5 linked regions of the Homo sapiens genome follow. The protein of the gene in region 5 purifies or fractionates together with the protein of the main gene of each other region. This does not show direct contact. Each region holds a gene or a part of one and is shown on either strand. Other genes may lie near its edges.

The links.
Region 1: the proteins of ZC4H2 (region 5) and SLC25A31 purify together in Homo sapiens (affinity purification with mass spectrometry; one large-scale study listed by BioGRID and IntAct). This does not show direct contact.
Region 2: the proteins of ZC4H2 (region 5) and PARS2 purify together in Homo sapiens (affinity purification with mass spectrometry; one large-scale study listed by BioGRID and IntAct). This does not show direct contact.
Region 3: the proteins of ZC4H2 (region 5) and RLIM purify together in Homo sapiens (affinity purification with western blotting; one study listed by BioGRID). This does not show direct contact.
Region 4: the proteins of ZC4H2 (region 5) and DIDO1 purify together in Homo sapiens (affinity purification with mass spectrometry; one large-scale study listed by BioGRID and IntAct). This does not show direct contact.

Annotation. Positions count from the first base shown.
Region 1 is NC_000004.12:127,771,109-127,774,792, reverse strand, and holds the end of SLC25A31 (ADP/ATP translocase 4), read right to left. Parts: intron 2,150-3,684; coding exon of another isoform or gene 2,098-2,149; intron 1,408-2,097; coding exon 1,219-1,407; 3' UTR 501-1,218; downstream 1-500. UniProt on the Homo sapiens protein: ADP:ATP antiporter that mediates import of ADP into the mitochondrial matrix for ATP synthesis, and export of ATP out to fuel the cell.
Region 2 is NC_000001.11:54,761,724-54,765,781, forward strand, and holds the start of PARS2 (probable proline--tRNA ligase, mitochondrial precursor), read right to left. Parts: upstream 2,801-4,058; 5' UTR 2,738-2,800; intron 1-2,737. UniProt on the Homo sapiens protein: Mitochondrial aminoacyl-tRNA synthetase that catalyzes the specific attachment of the proline amino acid (aa) to the homologous transfer RNA (tRNA), further participating in protein synthesis.
Region 3 is NC_000023.11:74,604,511-74,608,497, forward strand, and holds part of RLIM (E3 ubiquitin-protein ligase RLIM), read right to left. Parts: intron 1-3,987. UniProt on the Homo sapiens protein: E3 ubiquitin-protein ligase.
Region 4 is NC_000020.11:62,919,789-62,923,775, forward strand, and holds part of DIDO1 (death-inducer obliterator 1), read right to left. Parts: intron 1-3,987. UniProt on the Homo sapiens protein: Putative transcription factor, weakly pro-apoptotic when overexpressed. Tumor suppressor. Required for early embryonic stem cell development.
Region 5 is NC_000023.11:64,920,697-64,924,683, forward strand, and holds part of ZC4H2 (zinc finger C4H2 domain-containing protein), read right to left. Parts: intron 1,548-3,987; exon of another isoform or gene 1,293-1,547; coding exon 1,121-1,292; intron 1-1,120. UniProt on the Homo sapiens protein: Plays a role in interneurons differentiation. Involved in neuronal development and in neuromuscular junction formation.

The sequences.
Region 1 (3,684 bases), on a different chromosome or scaffold from region 5:
AACCATCTTTCTTTGAACCATTTGATAGTGCAGCAGGAAAGGAAAATATTTTCTATTTTGTTCCTGTAACTCCATTATGTTGACCACTGCAAGAAATGATGTTTAGAGTTTGACTTTTTTTCCTCTTGAGGGATAACACCAATATATTTAAAAGTATGGTCTGTATTATTGTCCTTGAAATACGCTTTGTCCCTGTGCATAAGGAAGTTCCTCCACCCCATTTTGCCCATTCACAGCCTCAGAAAATCCGTCTATAGTTTATCCCCACTAGCTTAACATCCCTTTACTCATTAGAACGTTAAAAACTTGGGGATTTCAAATATACTGTATTCTACAACAGCTCTGAAAAACAAGACAAACTCCCGTACAAAACCTTGGAATGCTGTTTATATCTGTCCATTGAGAAATACCTCTCTCTTTAGTTAAGCCAGTTCTGACAAAAATTTTGCTATACTCTGCTTACTAATAAAGTCAGAGTCAGGGAAAAAAAGACTCCTTTATAACAGTTAAGCTTCCTTTATTGTCAACAAAATATACAAACTAATTTTCAAGAGGATACCTTTTGTTCTAAGATATATTCACACTAGCAAGATTTTATTTATTTTAAAGATAAACATCAGCAGATAAGCCATTTTATTTTCCAGTTTCAGTTTTATAATGTCACTAAAGTCATTATCAAATTTTAAATGATCACATCTATAATCAAAGGCTGATACTGTAAATATTATACACAGTAATAACAACTGTCTTAGAAGAGATATAGAACAAAGCTTATTTCTGCCTACACATATGATGACATCTATTGATAAGCTTTTAAGAAATATGTCATACCATATGACTTCAAAAGATGGGAAAACAGGTATATTAAATGAATAGCAATTTAAAAGACGCTACTTTCATTTCCTAGATTTCAGCATTAATCTAGGATTATATGATTAATTTTTAATCATAAAAAGAATTTTAAACTAACAAATTAAAATATACTACCTATAATAAATGAAATATCACACTAAAATGTGTTTGAGTCTAAGTGGGAGGAAAATCCACATTTATCTGATTTTTAGTATTTAAATTCTTGAAAAAATGTATGCTTTATTGCAGAACTAGCACTTTAACAAAATACAGACAATAACACTATCAAAATGTATGCAAATGGCAGCTATGTAATTTGTATGTTTAACAAGTTAAATCCATGTATTTCTTAATTTACTCTCCCGATTACCTACCACCAATATCAATATGAAAGAATTCTTTAATTTTATCATATAATACCAACACCAAAGCACCCCCTGTACCGCGAAGAACATTGGAGAAGGCGCCACGAAAAAAGGAACTGATTCCTTCATGTTGGTATATCTTCACAAAGCAGTCTAAGGTTCCTTTATATTGCCGTTTAGCCTCACCACTCTATACAAAGAAAAACAAAGGGTTTTCCATTATCTGAATATCTTTTATCTTAAGACAGTCTTCTATTAGCACTAAGGATAGATAAGATAAACACTGTGTTGAGTAGCACTGTGTTAATAGGCATATATGGCTACTGTCCCTGGTGGTTAGAGAACATTCATACTTTTCAGGCACACTTGAAAACTGACCATACATTAGGCGTTAACAAATGTCAAAGGATGTCATCACATAGACCATGATTTATCCTCTCACAGCACTGCAATTAACTGAGAAATCAATAGCAAAATAGAAAAATACCATATGGGCTAGGCATGGTGGCTCATGCCTGTAATCTCAGCACTTTGGGAGGCCGAGACAGGAAGATCGCTTGAGCCCAAGAGTTTGAGACCACCCTGGGCAATATGGAAAAATGCCATCTCAACAAAAAATACAAAAAATTAGCTGGGTGTGCTGGCACATGCCTGTGGTCCCAGCTACCCGGGAGGCTGAAGTGGGAGGATCACCTGAGCCTGGGAGGTCAAAGTTGCAGTGAGCCATGATCACACCATTGCACTCTAGCCTAAGTGACAGGGTAAGACCCTGTCTCAAAAAAAAAAAAAGAAAAAAAAAAAGAAATCATATGTTGGGATGTTAAGAACACTTCTTCTCAGAAAATACTGAAAACCAAATGATAATTACAAAACCTCTTACCTAAATTTTTAAGATGCAGCTTCGAGTTGTAATTTATAAGGAAATTAATGACCTTGAAATATTAGAAAAGGCTAAAAGTTAATGAGCAACCTAAACATTTTTAGACAAAGTATAAACCTAAAGAAAGTAAAAACAAGAAAATAACTGGCAGAAATAAAGGAAATAGAAAACACACACAACAGCACAAAAAAAGTCCAGTTAGGTCTTTGAAATACTTTGCTGACAGAGTTTGGAAATATTGTTTGAGGAAAAAAGAGAAAAGGCCCCAAGATTATCAGAAATGGCAACGGTAACAAAAATGCAGATGATCCAGAAATTTAAGAGCAAGATGATGTCATAAAAAACTTCATGACAATTATTTTTAAGTCATAAGAAATGGATAAATTCCTAGAAAAGTATAATTTACCAACAGAGTAGAAAAGAACTGGAATAATACTATAGTTGTTAAAAATTCAATCAGTTGTTGAATATCTTCTCATAAAGAAAACCACATGTCCAAAAGGCTTTACATGTGAGTTCTGCTAAACATTCAATGAACGTTTAATTCCAATCTTTCAGAAATTATTCTAGAGGAGAGAAAAAGTGGGATGACTCCTCAACGTATTTTATGAGGCTTGCACAGACTTGCTACTGAAGTCATACTAGAGCAATACAAGAAGGAAAAATACAAGCCAGTGTCATTAAACATGGATGCAAAAATCCTGAACAAAACCCAGCAATCAAATCTAGCAAGTGCTACAGAATACAATACTTGCAAACTGGGTTTATCCCAGGCATACAAGAGTTAGCTCTAGAAAACAGATTAATTTAACACAATATGTAAACATATTAAAAGAAAAAAAGGTTTAATCATCTCAGCAGATACAGAAAGAACATGACTGCCATTCATAATTAAAAATTGTTGTAATCCAGGAACAGAAAGGAACTGTCATTACATGATAAATGATAATGACAAAAAACCCCCACAGTTAATATTAAATTATGTAACACTGACGTCATTTTCTGTATGATTAGGAACAAGATAAGGTTGCCAGTTACTACTTTGTAAATATAACACTGAATCCGGGGTCTCAGTGAGTACAGAAAGGCAAGAAAGAGAAATAAAAGGTGTAAGAATTGATAAGGAAGGAAGAAAACACTGATATTAGTTGCAGATTATATGCCTGTTCATGTAAATAAAAATTTGGAAGGTATGTACATACACATTCGTGTTTGTAATAGGGTTAACAAAGTTGTGGGATGTAAAATGAAATACACAAAAATTAAGTAGTACTGTTATGGGCTGAATTGTTAAAATCATATATTGAAATCCTAATAACTCCCAGTACCTCAGAATGTGACTGTATTTGGAGATAGGGTCTTTAAAGGTAATTAGAATTAAATGAGATCACAAGAGTGAACCCTAAGCCAATATGACTGTCCTTATAAAAAGGGGAACAGGCCAGACGTGGTGGTTCAGGCCTGTAATCCTACCACTTCGGGAGGCTGTGGTGGGTGGATTGCCTGAGCTCAGGAGTTCGAGACCAGCCTGGGCAAAATGGTGAAACCCTGTCTCTACTAAAATACAAAAAATTAGCTGGGTGTGGC
Region 2 (4,058 bases), on a different chromosome or scaffold from region 5:
TTACCTCTAGCAGCCTCAGGTCCTCCAGCTTGTCCCCTCCAACCTCAAGCAGCCTCATTCATTTCCCCTGTGCACTGTACAAATGTTTAAAGGTGGTCAGGCACTGCCACAGAGCCCTAGTGTGGTGTTGTAGGAACGTACGGGCCATGGAGGCAAGGCACATGTGGATTCACCCCTGGCTCTATAACTTCCTTGTGATCCAACCTTACTTAGGGCAGTGGCTCCAGCCAGAAACTCATCCTTGATTCCTCCTAAAGCAAATGAGTCTGTCTCAAGGTTTCCCTTAAGTCCACCCCCTCCTTTCTGGCCCTTACTGCCTCAACATTAGGTTAGCCCCTCAATACCACTTGCTACATTACAGTTACCCAGTGGTTCTGAAATCTAATTGAGCATCAGAATCGCTGGAGGGCTTGTTTTTTTTTTTTTTTTTTTAGAGACAGAGTTCACTCTATCACCCAGGCTGGAGTGCAGTGGTGCAATGTCAGATCACTGCAACCTCCGTACCCCCAGCCTCAAGAGATTCTCTTGCCTCAGCCTCCTGAGTAGCTGGAATTACAGGCATGTGCCACCATGCCCAACTATTTTTCATATTTTTAGTACAGACAGAGTTTCACCATGTTGGCCAGGCTGGTCTCAAACTCCTTGACCTCAAGTGATCAGCCCGCCACGGCCTCCCAAAGTGCTGGGATTACAGGCGTGAGCCACCATGCCCGGTTGGGTTTGTTAAAACAGTGATTGCAGAGGCCCATCTCCAGAGCTTCTCATTTAGTAAGTTTGGGGTGTGGGCAGAGAACCTGTATTTCTAACAAGTTCCCAGGTGACACAGATGCTGCTGGTCCAGGGACCCCACTGGGAGAACCACTGCAGGGGTCTAGCTGTGTACCACCAATGACTAATGTCTTAAACTCCATGAAGACGACAGCTATGTCTATTTTATTCCAAGTTTTATCTGCAGCATTCAGCACAGTGCCTGGACACAGTGGACACTCAATAACATGTTCCTTTTTTTCTTTCTTAAAAAATAGAGATGGAGTCTTGCTATGTTGCCCAGGCTGGTCTTGAACTCCTGGCCTCATGCGATCCACCTGCCTCAGCTTCCCAAATTGCTGGGATTATAGGTGTGAGCCACTGTGCCCAGGCTCAATACATGTTCTATCAATGAATGAATGGAGTAATTCTTGAACCCTGTCAGTCCAGTCTCCGTATTAGTCTCCAGCTAAAAAGATAGCTGACCCAATCACTCCCCTGTTTACAATCCATTAACGGCTGGCTCTCATAATTTTCTCAGAATGGCACCAAAGCTCTTCACATTTTGATCCCAACACACCTCTTCCAGCTTCTTATCCTAGCATTCCCCAAGTTGCTCATTATTCTTGAAACAGACTGACCTCCCCCCAACCCCCAGCAATTCCAACTGGAATTCAAGGTTCACTTACTCCAAGAAACTTTCTCCAACCCCTCTAAACAGAGAAAGTCACCTCCTCTGTGCTCCACTGCACACACCTCTTTTTAGTATACTGTATTAGAATCATCTCCAAAAATATTTTTGAGGAACTATTGTGTGCCAGGCATTGGAAGCGAATGGTGTTTCACATACAATTTTTTTTCTTTCTGGGGGTGTGTACGGGGGCCAGGAGGGGAGGTCAGTGTCGATGTTTAACATTCTATTCCTTGATGAAATTACAAGTTTATGAAGTTTTATACATCTTTAAATTTCAGAGTCTCGCATAATGCCTACTATTTAGGCTATTATTATCTGTTGATCAAATATGTTAATAAATTAAGAGCAAAGCAAACAGGTGCAATGATATAATTATCTGGATAATTTAAACGAGAGCTTTAAACTCTTCTCCTCCACGTTTAGCATGTCTGTCCTCAGACCCCTCAGCTTATACAAACAGGAGAATAAGTAGAATTATCTCAGTTTTTCAGGAGCAATACAGTAACTAACGTATGCAACACTTCAGGCTCTGGCAAACAGCCTCTGAGACATTCAGTCGATTTTTTTGAGTACCTACTCTGTCGGGACACTGTCAGCCCTTCCAGCCCAGGCCTTTTTAAAGATTCTTTGACTCACCATTGCCCCCCAATCTAATCAGAAAAGTTGTACCTAAAGCGTTTACAACCGTACCTGATACATAATATTAAGTCTCACAAAGTGCTATTATTATTATTATTATGCCCAACTCAGAAAAGGGAGGCTCTGAAATATAAAGTCACTTGTGTCAAGCCACACAGCAAATAAGCGCAGGGTCGGGCCTGGAAGGCAAGGTCCCCGCCTCCAAATCCTACAGTTTCCATCACGAACTGTGCTACATTAAACAGCAATGGAACCCTAGGCCTAGTTCTAAGAACAAGCTCGGCCTTCACTCGCTCGGTGACCCTGGACCACTCACTTCGCCCCGGACCTCCGTTTTCTCCAACATAAAACGGGAAGGCTGGCTCAGGCAGCAGGTGGTCCCAGGGCCTTTCCAGAGCTGGCACTTCGAGAACTGTGTGACTCTCACGACGACCGAGGGAGAGACCAGGAAGTGCTGCCCTCATTTTACAACGGAGGACACGGAGACCAGGAGTATCGAAAAGTTTATGGGATTCTCGCCCGCCCCAACTCAAGGACGGGATGCAAGTGGGAAAACGGACACCAGGGTCCTAGGTCTCCGCGCCCACACCGCGTGCTCGCTTCATTTCGCTGCCCGCGCCCGTCCCTCAGGTCTGGGAGTCACCCACGTTCACCTACCGCAATCCCAGCCCACGCCTCCCGCAAGACCACCGCCGTGCCGGGCCAGCGCGCTTGCGCCTCGAGCAAGCCCGCTCCTAAGCCCCGCCTCCTGCCCTTTTCGCCAATTGCAAAGCCGCGCTCACGGAGGCGGGGCCGAGGGCAGGGGCGCTCTGGCCCCGCCCCACGCTAGGCGCGCGTGAGAGGTTTTCCGGAAGTGTAGCCAAAGAGCGAGTACCCGGCTTTCCCCAAGATCGTTGATTGGCCAGGGCAGCCTTGAGTAAATCACCGTTCCGGAAGTACTTTCTAGGAACTTGGGAGGTATAACTCTATGATGACTTGAGGGTGCTCTTCCTGCCCCTGCCAGGCCCCGCCCACTCCCCCAATAGGAGAACCACTGGCGACAGTGTAACCATGACGACACACTGGGCAGTGTAGTTTCTAATCTATCCTATGATTTTTACGGGCTTTCCATTTAAATAGTATAAAATTGTGAAACAGTTTGAGAAAGACGCCTTTATTACAGTGCCCAAGACAGTCTTTAAGACACAGATTCAAACTTCCATTCACAAAATATTTTTTGAGCTGCTACCACGTAGAAGCCACTGCTGTAGACACTGGGGACAGTGAAGTGAACCAAACAGACAAAATTAACTGCGTTCAGTGTAGCTTGTGTTCTAGAGAGGACACAGTCAATAAACCAATAGAGCGAAATTTAAGCAGGGCAGGGAATGGGAGCAAAGAACTCAGTAACCAAGATAAACAGTATTTTAATACAATTGTTTTTTTAAAAAAACAAAATGCAAAAAATCCATGGCAAACAAAATATCAAAATTTAAAAGAATCTGTCAGTCAGATGGTGATAAGGGCTATAAAGAAAAAATTAGAGAAGGAGAATGGAGTGGGGGAGTTAAGTGTTTGCAATTTTTTTCTTTGTTTTTTTGAGACGGAGTTTTGCTCTTGTCGCCCAGGCTGGAGTACAATGGCGCGTTCTCGGCTCACTGCAACCTCCTTCTCCCGGGTTTAAGCAATTCTTCTGCCTCAACCTCCCGAGTAGCTGGGATTACAGGTGCCCACCACGTCCGACTACTTTTTGTATTTTTAGTAGAGATGGGGTTTCACCATATTGGCTAGGCTAGTCTTGAACTCCTGACCTCAGGTGGTGATACACCCACCTCGGCCTCCCAAACTGTTGGGATTATAGGTGTGAGCCACCGCGCCCAGCCAAGTGTTTGCAATTTAAAATAGGAGGATCAGGAAAAACCTCATCAAGTAGGTGGCGTTTTTAGCAAAGACCAGAAGGGGGTGAGAGACAGAGCCTTGCAGGGGAAGAAATTTCCAG
Region 3 (3,987 bases), 9.7 Mb from region 5:
CACTATTTGCATCCCCTTTATGTTTTCCAAAAATAAAACAATAAGGTTCAATACTCTACAATGTTCAATACTCATGGGATAGATAAGTCTTTCCTATGCTCATGAATCTTCAAGATTCATTCTTGACCTTTTAGAATTTCTACCATTTCCTACATAGAAACTAGAGACAAAACATTTTACCTCCATTCAAAATTTTCCTGACACTGATTTCAGAGATTTTTGAATCCTAAACAGCTCCTGCTTGATGAGCTTGGATTCCGTTCCATGAAAGAGGGAATTCTAAATTTTATTTAATTCAAAATTTTAATGAGACACACTCATAAAGCAACATGTGAACAAATCCAAATCACTACCTCTTCAATAATAATAATATGCTGCTGTCTCCTTTCCTGCTACCCTTCCATATATATGCCAGAGACAATCAAGGAAAATATTTTCCCCATGATACTCCTGCAACACACTTATTTCAAAGCCTCCATCCTTTCTGCCTTAACTTAGCATTTCCCCTGGGCTGGAATTGGGGGTCAAGAGATTTCAGCACTGGCAAGGCACTCCCTCCCTTATAAGGGAATTCAAAGAGTAAGCTATGGCTACAATACCTGCAGAGGTCCCCTGGACTAGACATAATTACATTTGCAAAGAAAATGGAAATCAAGGCAATGCTCTCAAATGCCTTGTAAACTAATTTTACTCTCACACACCCAATGAGCCTGGTCTTATTTTAAGCAGACCTTCACTATCTAAGCGGCATAAAAGAAAGAAATGGAATAAATCTAAAAACCACAAGTTCTGCCCCAGGTAGATATAATCTGCCACTATTGTTTACTAAGTGCAAACAAACATTTTAAAGTTTAGGCATGCCAAAAATACCAGAAAACCATACTCCAAATGATCAAATACAGCTCTATCTCCATTTTGGGTGTGAAAATATTAGTGAAGAATAACATTAACAAAACAGGTCTCCAGATTCTACTTTGCAGTGAGTAACATTGTGGTACATTTCTAGCTTAAGTAGCAAGAGGAAAAAGAGAATCCTTATACACCGCTGGGATCTTTCAACATCATCGTAAAAGAGAAGGTCATAAATCCATTTCTTTAGTTATCTCAGATAAGTCAGAAATTCTGACTTCAGCATATGATTAGCATCAGCTGTTTTTCTATGAAAAGATTACCCGTGAAACATACAGTAATTTAAACAATGAAATATAACTGTTTTGAAGTCACTTAGGTCTCTCTCTGGCTATAAGCAATACTCATCACCCTGTATTTACATAGCCCTTACACCTGTATTTCATTTAATCTTCACAATAATCCCATGAATTAGGAATCACCACCTCTACAGGTGACAAACAGAAGCACAGAGAAAGAAAGTGATTTACCAAAAACCATGTGACTAGTAAGTGGGAAAGGGCCAGTAATTAAATCCAGGTCTCTGCATTCCAAATCCAGTCAACTTTTCACTAAGACAACTGCCTCCCAACATATCCCAAGACTCTATACTTTAAAACACATTCCTTCCTTCAATCCCAATAGGTATGACTAAACTATTCAATCTATGAGCTTTTTATACCATGTTCACTCCCTGTATGAAAAATTCCAAAATGACAAAACACCTTTTGTAAGCAGCACAAACCTAGATGGACTTATTTTTAAATAAGTCAACTTTTAGTAATTTTTAAAAATACAGTTGCTCCTTAGATAAACAGCATATTTTATTAACCTTATTTCTTTTAGAGTACTGTGTGCCAATATATCCAAATCCATTCCTGGAAACAAGAAACCAAATGAGAAATTTTGCCCAATCGTTTCAAAGAGCTACTCATCTGGTCAATGAATGGGACTGTATCCAGTAAGTTTAATTCTGGGGAGGAAAGGCCAGCAAGAACACCAACCCTGAGATTTATTTAAAACAGATTTTATTCACTTTGAGAATTTTAAAGTATTGTTAATAATCTCAACTTCTTCTAGTCATTATTATATATTAATATAAATTATGCAAATGACTGTTTCTGATTACTGCTAAATGTAGTATCTCATTTAATTCTTCTAATCCATGCACACCAAACTTTTAAAAAATTTAATTGTTATAATGTTAAGGCAAAAAGTTATTTAAAACATATTGTTCAGTACTAACAGGTCAGGAGACCTGGTGCTAAGTATAAACACAGGCATGTTATATTTGATGGACACACTACATTATAGTACCCAATTAAGGAGACTTAAGGCATCCAAAAATACTGTTAATAAAACAGACCTTACAAAACTAAATTCTGAAACACCAAGTGAAATGCCTGTGTAAAAACCAATTTTAAAAAGTGAGTCATCTTGGCTGGGCATGGTGCTGGCCGAGTGTGGTGGCCGACATCTGTAATCCTAGCACTTTGGGAGGTCGAGGTCGGCGGATCGCTTGAGCCCGGGAGTTCAAAACCAGCCTGGGCAACATGGTGAAACCGTTTCTACCAAAGACACAAAAACTTAGCTGGGCATGGTAACGCGCATCTGTGGTCCTAGCTACTTGGGAGCTGATGTGGCTGAGGTGGGAGGATCACTTGAGTTTGGGGGCAGAGGTTGCAGTGAACTCAGATCACGTCACAGCAGTCTAGTCTGGGTGACAGAGACTCCATATCAAAATTTAAAAAGTCATATGGAAGAAATTACCTCGTTTTTTAAAAAAAGTGGGGTGGGTGGGAGGGAGGAATTAAGGTAACGTAACATCAACTAACTACTAAATCATGTTGAATATTTCACCTTGTGCATATGTGTTCATTCAAGCTCCAAATTCTATAATAAAGTTCTAAAGCAGGACATGCCAATTTTTAAAAAATTATGGGTATGAACACAAAAATGTGTCACACTGACAAGAGAAGGGCAATCCATTTTGTTTGCAACAGAGCTTCATCAAGAATCTCATAAAGGAGGCTGAGTACAGTGGCTCATGCCTGTAATCCCAACACTTCGGGAGGCCGACGCGGGCGGATCACCTGAGGTCAGGAGTTCAAGAGCAGTCTGGCCAACATGGTGAAACCCTGTCTCTACAAAAATACAAAAATTTGCCAGGCATGATGGCAGGTGCCTGTAATCCCAGCTACTCAGGAGGCTGAGGTGGGAGAATTGCTTGAACCTGGGAGGTGGAGGTTGCAGTGAGCAGAGATCGTGCCATTGCACTCCAGCCTGGGTGACAGAGCGAGACTCCGTCTCAAAACAAACAAACAAAAAACCACACACCAAAAACACACACACACAAAAAAAACAAAAAAGAACTTCATAAAGGAGTCCTTTAAGAACTAGTGACATGTGATCTGTGTCAATGAAGAAAATGTTAAATACCATCACCAAAATGAAAAATACTTTATTCAGTTTTTTAAAAGTTAAATCACAAAGAACTGCTGAATTTAAGGCCAGAAAACAAAAAGTACCATCATATCATTACGTATGTAGGCACCAAAAGTGTTGGGGATTCTTCATATATAGAATGTTTAATTAAAATGTTATGGTATTTGTAACAGAAAAATATTTGCTAACAACCAGGTATCTTTTTTTATTCTACACATGGGTAGCAGGGTGAAACTCAGCTCTGTGAAAGGAAAAAAGAGATACTGAAATCCAGTCTTGGTTGTAACTTGGTTATGTGGATTTGGCCAATTCATTTAACCTCTTGTGCCAGAGAAGTCTCCATCAATATTAGAGTATTGGATTAAACCATCTGCAAGGTACTTTCCAGTTCTATGAATCTGTAACTGTAAATAAGATATAACCTACACCACATTACGATATTAAGAAATATTAAGTTTAGGAAACAGCACAAATAACTAGGACATAAGCTTATAAGCTCTGCTTTTCTCACTACCATTTCACTCAATGTACTTCTATCTCCACTCACGCAGTTATCTTTTTGAAAAGAAATATAAAGCATTCCTAAAAAAAAAAAAAAAAAAGAACAGGCAGGGTTAATGTCTCACTGACTTTCCTTATTGCATGATACCTCTC
Region 4 (3,987 bases), on a different chromosome or scaffold from region 5:
ATTTCCCTCTATCTACTTCCTAGTGCAAAACACAGGCTGGTGACCTTGGTGGGCAACTCAGGTGGGAAATTTCAACTCTCCAAATGAATGCCAGGAACCAGAAACAGTCACATAAAATCATTTATCGAGGTGAAGGAGAAGTGAGGTTTATTGTTCTCTATTTAATGGCTGGACATAAAGTCTCCTAAACCACTACCTTTGATGGACTCCTCTTGTCTCAGTAAAAAAGAAAGTATGGTTTCAAACACTTAAGATACGGTCCCAATTCTACATACCAGGATTCCTGTTGCTCTTAATAAAAGATTACCACTTGGGCCCTGGTGAGGACCACAATGCACAGGTTCTTATCCCCATGAAGAAATCCACCTCATGCCGCAAGTGTGGCAGTGTGAGCTCCCCGGGTACCATGTGAGTGGGGTGCGCTGCGGGAGGTCATCCCAGCAGGGTACTGTGGGGGCTGCTTCCCCTCAAGGGCATCTGTTTATTACAGGTTTAAATCACTGTTCCTTTATGTTCTCCTCGGTCCACACCCTTAGAGACCTGCATAATTCCATGGCCCCAAGCACAGCCTACTCTTGCCTCCCCCCAACCCCCGATTTTCACTGCTGCAAAGGATTCAGCAAGGGGCTGTGTAGGGCACTTTGAGGGAGAGGTGTGTACTGGAACAGCTTTACCGGTGACAGCGCATCAGATTGATTCCACACTTGCCCCAAGGGGCAAGCACATGGTTGAGCCACTAAAAATTGTTCAAAGACACAGCTTATCTTCCTAAAAGTAATCAATTTCCCCAAGTGTTTAGAGCTATTTTACAACTCTTAGAGAAGTGGTTCTCAAAGCGTGGTCCAGGGGTCCTTTTGGGAGGCCCCCGGATCAAAGCAGTCTGCACAACACCAACATTCCATGCTGTTTCCACAGCCACTCTGAGTATATGCTAGAGCATTTCAGAAGCTGAACGGAGACACTAAGTTTGAATTCGGAAGGAGAATCCAGAAGCTGTCAGTTAAGCCAAACAGATTTGTGAAAACAAAACCATCTTTCTCATTGTTTTCGTCATTGAAAACAGGTTCCACTAAATGGTTTACTTATGTTAATATATAATGGTTTACAATTTTACTTTATTTATTTGAGATGGAGTCTCGCTCTCACTTAGGCTGGAGTGGAGTGGCACGATCTCAGCTCACTGCAACCTCCGCCTCCTGGGTTCAAGGGATTCTCCTGCCTCAGCCTCCCGAGTAGCTGGGATTACAGGCGTGTGCCACCATGCCGAGTTATTTTTTTTGTGTCTTTAGTAGAGAAAGGGTTTCACCATGTTGGCCAGGCTGGTCTTGAACTCCTGACCTCAGGTGATCCGCCCACCTTGGCCTCCCAAAGTGCTAGGATTACAGGCATGAGCCACCGTGCCCGGCTGGTTTCCAATTTTAAATAGAAGGCACTTCAGCATTTAAATGACTCATTTTTAAATGTCAAACATGGTGACTATCAATAGATATAACAAAAGCTCTTTGGGGTCTTCCCTGCTTTTTAGGAGTGTAAAGCAGTCCTGGGTCCTGCCAGTCTGGTAACCGCTGACACAGCAGCGCCTTCCACTGCTGGAGCCTGAAAGGCTGCTCCCCGAGGCCATTCCGGTTCAGTCAGGATCCTAGTGGCAGTGACAGGTACTGCTTTAGCATTCACTTTTTCCAGACACCCTGTCTACTCTCATTCAGTTTCATGTGATTACTGACCAGGCAGGGATTGCCAAGTGAGATGATGGCCACCCTAAGTTCAGGTGGAGAGAATGGGGTTTCTTCTTTAAAAACCCTTCTCTCACAAGAATTTGCTTCTCAAATTGGAGCTGCAGCCAATTTTTTTTTTTTTTTTTTGGAGACAGGGTCTCTGTCGCCCAGGCTGGAGGGCAATGGAGCGACTGATCACGGCTCACTGCAGCCTCAATCTCCCTGGGCTCAGGTTATCCTTCTACCTCAGCCTCCTGAGTAACTGGGACTACAAGCATGCACTACAATGCCCAGCTATTGTGTGTGTGTGTATATCCACAATATATATATACTATATATATCCACTACATATACCCGCTATATATATATCCACAATATATATACACACTATATATATATCCACAATATATATACACTATATATGTCCAAAATATATATACACTATATATGTCCACAATATATATACACACTATACATATGTCCACAATATATATACACTATATATATATCCACACAATATATATCCACACGATATATATACACACAATATATATATACACACACTATATACACTATATACACACTATATATACACACTATATATATACACACACACACACACATATATACATATATACACACACACACACACAAACAATGCCCGGCTCTTTTATATGTATGTGTGTGTGTGTGTATATATATATGTACATATATATACACACACACACATATATATATATACACACACACACATATATATACACACACACACAGGTGTCTACCTGGCCTGTGTCTCCAGGGTCTTGGGAGCATCTCTGGGGCCTACTCCCCTCAGTGCAGGTTCAGCATTCCCAGTCCTGACAGCTGCAGCCAGCAGTGCCCACCCCCACCCAGACATTTATAACCAGGACAAGCCCTCAGTTAAGCAGATGGGGGGCTCACTCAAGGGGGAACCTGTCTATGAATGCAGGGTTCAACCCCAGCTGCAAACGATAGCGGGGGTGGGGGGGTACAGTGTACCAGGCAGTGTATCTGTCTAGGAACGCGGGGGCCACAGGGTATCAGGCAGTGCATCTAAGGCCTGCACTTTCCTGTCTGTGAAATGGGGACGGTAACGACCTCACAGCTTCCTACAAGGTTTTCTGAAGCGACATCCTGTGCCAAATCATCTGCGGCAAGTGTGCAACAGACGGTAGGTGCCACCTAAGAAAGTGACACAGCCTGTGCTGGCGAGGGCTTGGAGAGAAAGGCCCTCTTAGGCGAGTCTATTTGTCCGACATATTTGCCAACAGCCCTTTATGGGCTTGGCACAGGGAAGAGAGCGGGTGACATACTGTTCTCATGGAGGGCAGGGAGTGCTTCACGATGACCCAGGAGAAATTAAGTAGGAAGTACACACTAACTTATGAGTGTTTTTTTTCTCACAAAGGTGACAAACTGAACACAAACTAACAGACCAGTTTGAAAAATCAAGAAACATCTATATAGTGAAATTCTTTTTGTTGGGGGTGGGGGGTGGACAGAGTCTTGCTCTGTCACCCAGGCTGGAGAGCAGTAGCAGAACCACGGCTCACTACAGCCTGGAACTCCTGGCTTCAAGGGGTCCTCTGGCCTCTGGCCTCAGCCTCCCAAAGTGCTGGGACTACAGGAGCACATCAGCATGCTTGGCCTAATTATTATTATTTTTTTTTTGAGACAGAGTCTCACTGTCGCCCAGGCTGGAGTGCAGTGGTGCGGTCTCGGCTCACTGCAACCTCGACCTCCCAGGTTCAAGCGATTCTCCCACCTCGGCCTCCCAAGTAGCTGGGATTACAGGCACGTACCACCACACCCAGCTAATTTTTGTATTTTTAGTTAGAGATGGGGTTTCACCATATTGGCCAGGCTGGTCTTGAACTCCTGACAAGTGATCCACCCATCTTGGCCTCCCAAAGTGCTGGGATTCCAGGCACGACCCACCATGCCCGGCCGGGAATTCTTTAAGGGTGATGAATCATCACATGCACAGCCGTGAGAAAAACTCCCTGGCACCTGAGTGAGAGCCGCAGACAAGCCGGCCAGGGCAGTGGCCACAGCCTCCAACGCATCCCGTTCACTAGTGCAAAACAGCTGTAACGTGGAGCTTTTCTGGACAGCACCCTTTCTAGTGTCTTTACTTTCTATTTTTACATAATGTTTAAGTTTCCTGTATGTGTATTACTTTTGTAATCAAACACATTAAGGTATCTTCATTTTGGAAAAAAAGTTGATTTACCTTATTATAAAGGTATAT
Region 5 (3,987 bases):
CTTCCGCCTCCCAGGCCAGCAGTCTTTTCTCCTAGATCAGTGATTCTCAAAATGTGGCCAAGGGATCAGCAGCATCAGCATCACCTGGGAACTCAGAAATGCATATTCTTAGGTTCACCTCAGACATACAAAATCAGAAAATCAGGGGTGGAGTCTAGCAATATGTGTCTTAGGCTCTCAAAGTGGCTTTGATGCATGCTCAAGTTTGAGATCCACTGGCTTATATTCTTAGCCCTTCTGGCAAATATCTTCCTCATTTAACTGGCCCTGTATCATTGGTTAGCTGGCAGCCAAACTGTCAACACTTTATGAGATCTAGAATTCTGCGATCTCTAACACAGAAAATCCCAATTGCTTACTGTCCAAACCTCATTCATATTTCCTTTATGATCCTAGGTCTGACAACATCAGAAAATGAGTATTGCCACAGAAATGAGTTTTCCAGAAATATAAACTTAGTTCCTTTGAAAGTAAATTTTAAAAATATATTCTTCATGGTTATGGGTGATAAGGGTTTGAAAAGACCTTACTGGTCAGCACTGCCAACCTCCTTCCTTGTGAAGGAATCATCAGTACAGTAGCTCATACAAGTGTCCATTAAGATGCTGCTTGAATAATTCCAAAGAGGGGAGCTTACCACCTTAGCAGACAGTTCATATTCTGTGTTCCAAGAGTTTCCAAAGGATATATCAATGAGGAAGCTCCACTTTGGTAGCAGGCAGAAATGATTTGTTTGGTCTGACTGAAAGCTTGGAGTGCTTTAAACTACATTCCAGAGGCAGCTGCCTGCTCTGCTTTTCCCCAAGGCTAGCTCTCAACTCCCAGAATCCCAGAATGAGAGCACATCAAATCAGTACATTTAGAGGGTACTGAGTCCCCCTTATAGTGCAGAGAGGGAAAATGAGGCCCAGAGAGAAGGGACTTGTCCAGTGATATATAGTCAGTTAGTGACAGAGCCAGGGCTGGATCTCAGAACTCCTGAATTCTTCTGCTCTACCACAGCCTGCACTGATGCCTGCTCCCCGAGCTAGGCCTAAGCCACATCTCAAGGAAAGGCCCTATCATTCACCACTACCTCTTTCTCAAAGGCTTTAGAGATAGGCTCCAGGCAGCCACGTACCACATTGATGTCAGCGTGGATCAGTCGGAGTTCCTCCACATGGGCCATCTTCTCCTGTAGCAGAAGGTCCATCTCCTGCTTGTATTCCTTCAGGTGCCTTTCCTCTGACTCAAGTGCCTCAAACTCAGCCTTCAAACGAGCCTTGATCTTCTCCATCTGCAGGGTCTTGTTCCTGCAATTTGCAAAAAGCAGGAAACAGGCCAGCAAAAGAAGGGAGAAAATAGAAATGGAGCCAGGACTTTTTTTCTAAGCCATCTTTACAAGCTTCCCCCTCTCCAGGCAGAGCCAACCTGAGGCCATCTCAAAAAAGAAGGCCAGGTGCAATGGCTCATGCCAGTAATCTCAGCAATTTGGAAGACAGAGGCAGGAGGATCACTTGAGCCCAGGAGTTTGAAACCAGCATGGGCAACATAGTGAGACCTTATATCTACAAAAAAAAAAAAGAAAAAGAAAAAAGAAAAAAAAAAGAAAAAGAAAAAGAAAAAGAAAGAAAGAAAGAAAGAATTAGCCACACATGGTGGTACATGCCAGTAGTCTCAACTACTCAGGAGGATAAGGCAGGAGGATTGCTTAAGCTATGATTGCACTACTGCACTCCAACCTAGGTGACAGAGCAAGACCTTGTCTCAAGAAAAAGTTAGGAGATGTTTCCCTCTAAAAGCTCAGTGGGTCTCGAATGGGGTTAATTTTGTTCCCTTATGGGGCATTTGCAAATATGGAGTGTTTTGGCTGTTAGATTGACTCAAGGAAATGTGTTACTGGCATTTAGTGGACATGGGCCAGAGATGCTAAATAGCCTCTCAATGCCCAGGAAAGTCCTGAACACAAAGAACTCCCACCCAAGAAACCAAAAATGATCTCTTGAGAAACTCTAAGTAAGCACTGTCCAATAAACTTACTACAGTGATGGAAATGTTTTGTATCTGTGCTGTCCAGTATAATAGCCACTATGCACATATGGCTACTGAGCACTTGTGATGTGGCCAGTGCTACTGAGGAACTGAGTTTTGAATTTTATTTAATCAAACTTAAAATTTAAACAGCCACGTGTGGCTACTGGCTGTCATATTAGACAGCACAACTCTAGAGGGTGTGTTTATCAGTTCCAGAAAAGGAAGGGGAAAGGATATTATGGGTAATTTCTTTCTTAGAAAAAGAAAAACCTGGTTTTGGTCATTAAATCCCAATTGTATACCGTGTGGCTCAGGAATCCTATACTTGGGAATATATTTTAAGGAGGTAATTCAAGGAAGCAAAAAGTTAATACACAGAGGTGTACTTTCTGGGCTTTCAGCAAAATTAGGATATTTGACAGCCACTGAAGACTTGTGACATAGAAAATGTTGAAGATAAGATACTCGCTGAAAAAGTGTACACACTAAGATTACAATTTCAAAACATACATGGATGTGACTAAATAAGAAAAAGATTTGGAAGAAACACAGTTTCAAGGGCCTTTAATAACATAATTTGAAGCCTGCCTCTGGGAAAGGGCTACAAAGTTTTGAAAGGGGTACCCTCTAAGGCATGTTGTTGTCTTCCCACTGGCTCCCTACCATGCTTCTCAGGATCTGCCTAGCCATTATCCCCTTACTCAGATTTGTAGTCTCCTTTCTTCTCCCTCAGTAGCTGATCTTCCCCTCTGCCCCAGTCTATCCTATGGGTGATCCAACTCCACACACTGGACTCTGGCTTCTGCCATCAGCCTGCTTGTCTTCAGTCTCTCTTTTCTTGACATTGCCTGTGCCTCTTGCCTCAAGAGGTAGCCTTCAATGGCACAGAACTACAGAAAGAACTGTTAGGTGGGTAGGATGGTGGGAGAAGTTTCTCTTTCTATACTAAGAAAACATCTTTTCATGTTATTGTATTTTTTTTTTTTTTGTAACCTTAGAAATGGGTTAAAAGGTGGGTGTTATCCCATTTGTAGAGAAGGGAATTGAGTGAGGTTCAGGGTGGTAACTTGCCCAGTACCACAGAGCTAGTAAATTGGATGTTGGGATTTGAACCAGGGCTCTCTAACACCAAAGCCTACATACCATCCATACCATCCACTACTCTATATTGCCTTTGAACAGGGTTACCAGGCTGAAGGGCATAAAAACATCAAGGGTTCTTGTTATAGCTCATCAACTGTCTTGCAGAGGGAAGATACTGATTTGTATTGGTTAATTACTTATTTGCTTATATCCCCATCTATCTAGACTTCTATTCTCCTCCTTTTCTAGGTTACGTGAAGATAAACCTGAACTTTGCCTGCTCCTGTAACCATTTTACCGATGGGAAAACTAAGATTCAGAGTAGTATAGTGTCTCACCCTAAGTGTCATACAACCAGTTAGGGCAGTGCTGGGCCAAGAACCTATTTCTGCAGACAAAGTCATATCATAAAAGAAGCATGCGCTTTAGACTCAGACTTCAATTATAAATCCTGGTTCTGCCTCTGATTAACTATTTGCTTTTGGACAATAATAACAACTGTATTTTAACTATATTTATTGAGCACTTACTATGTATTAATTATAGAGGGTTTCAATATATATTCAGTCAATAATTATTTATTGAATACTTATCATGTGCCAGGCATTCATTGTACTAGGTACTAGGGATAGAGCAGAGAACAAGACAGTATATAGACAGCAAGTTTCATCTAATGAAGAAAATCGATCCTGAACACAAGGTTGTATGTAAAATCATATTAGTGGTAGGGAGGAGATGCAGAATGTGATAGAAGGATACAACAAAGGGACCTAACATAGTCTGAGGGACACTATAGGGTAAAGGGGACAGTCAGAGGAGGCTTCCCTGAGAACTGAGGATGTGAAATCTAAGCTGAGACCTGAAGAATCAATAGGAGTTCGCTGGTGAGTG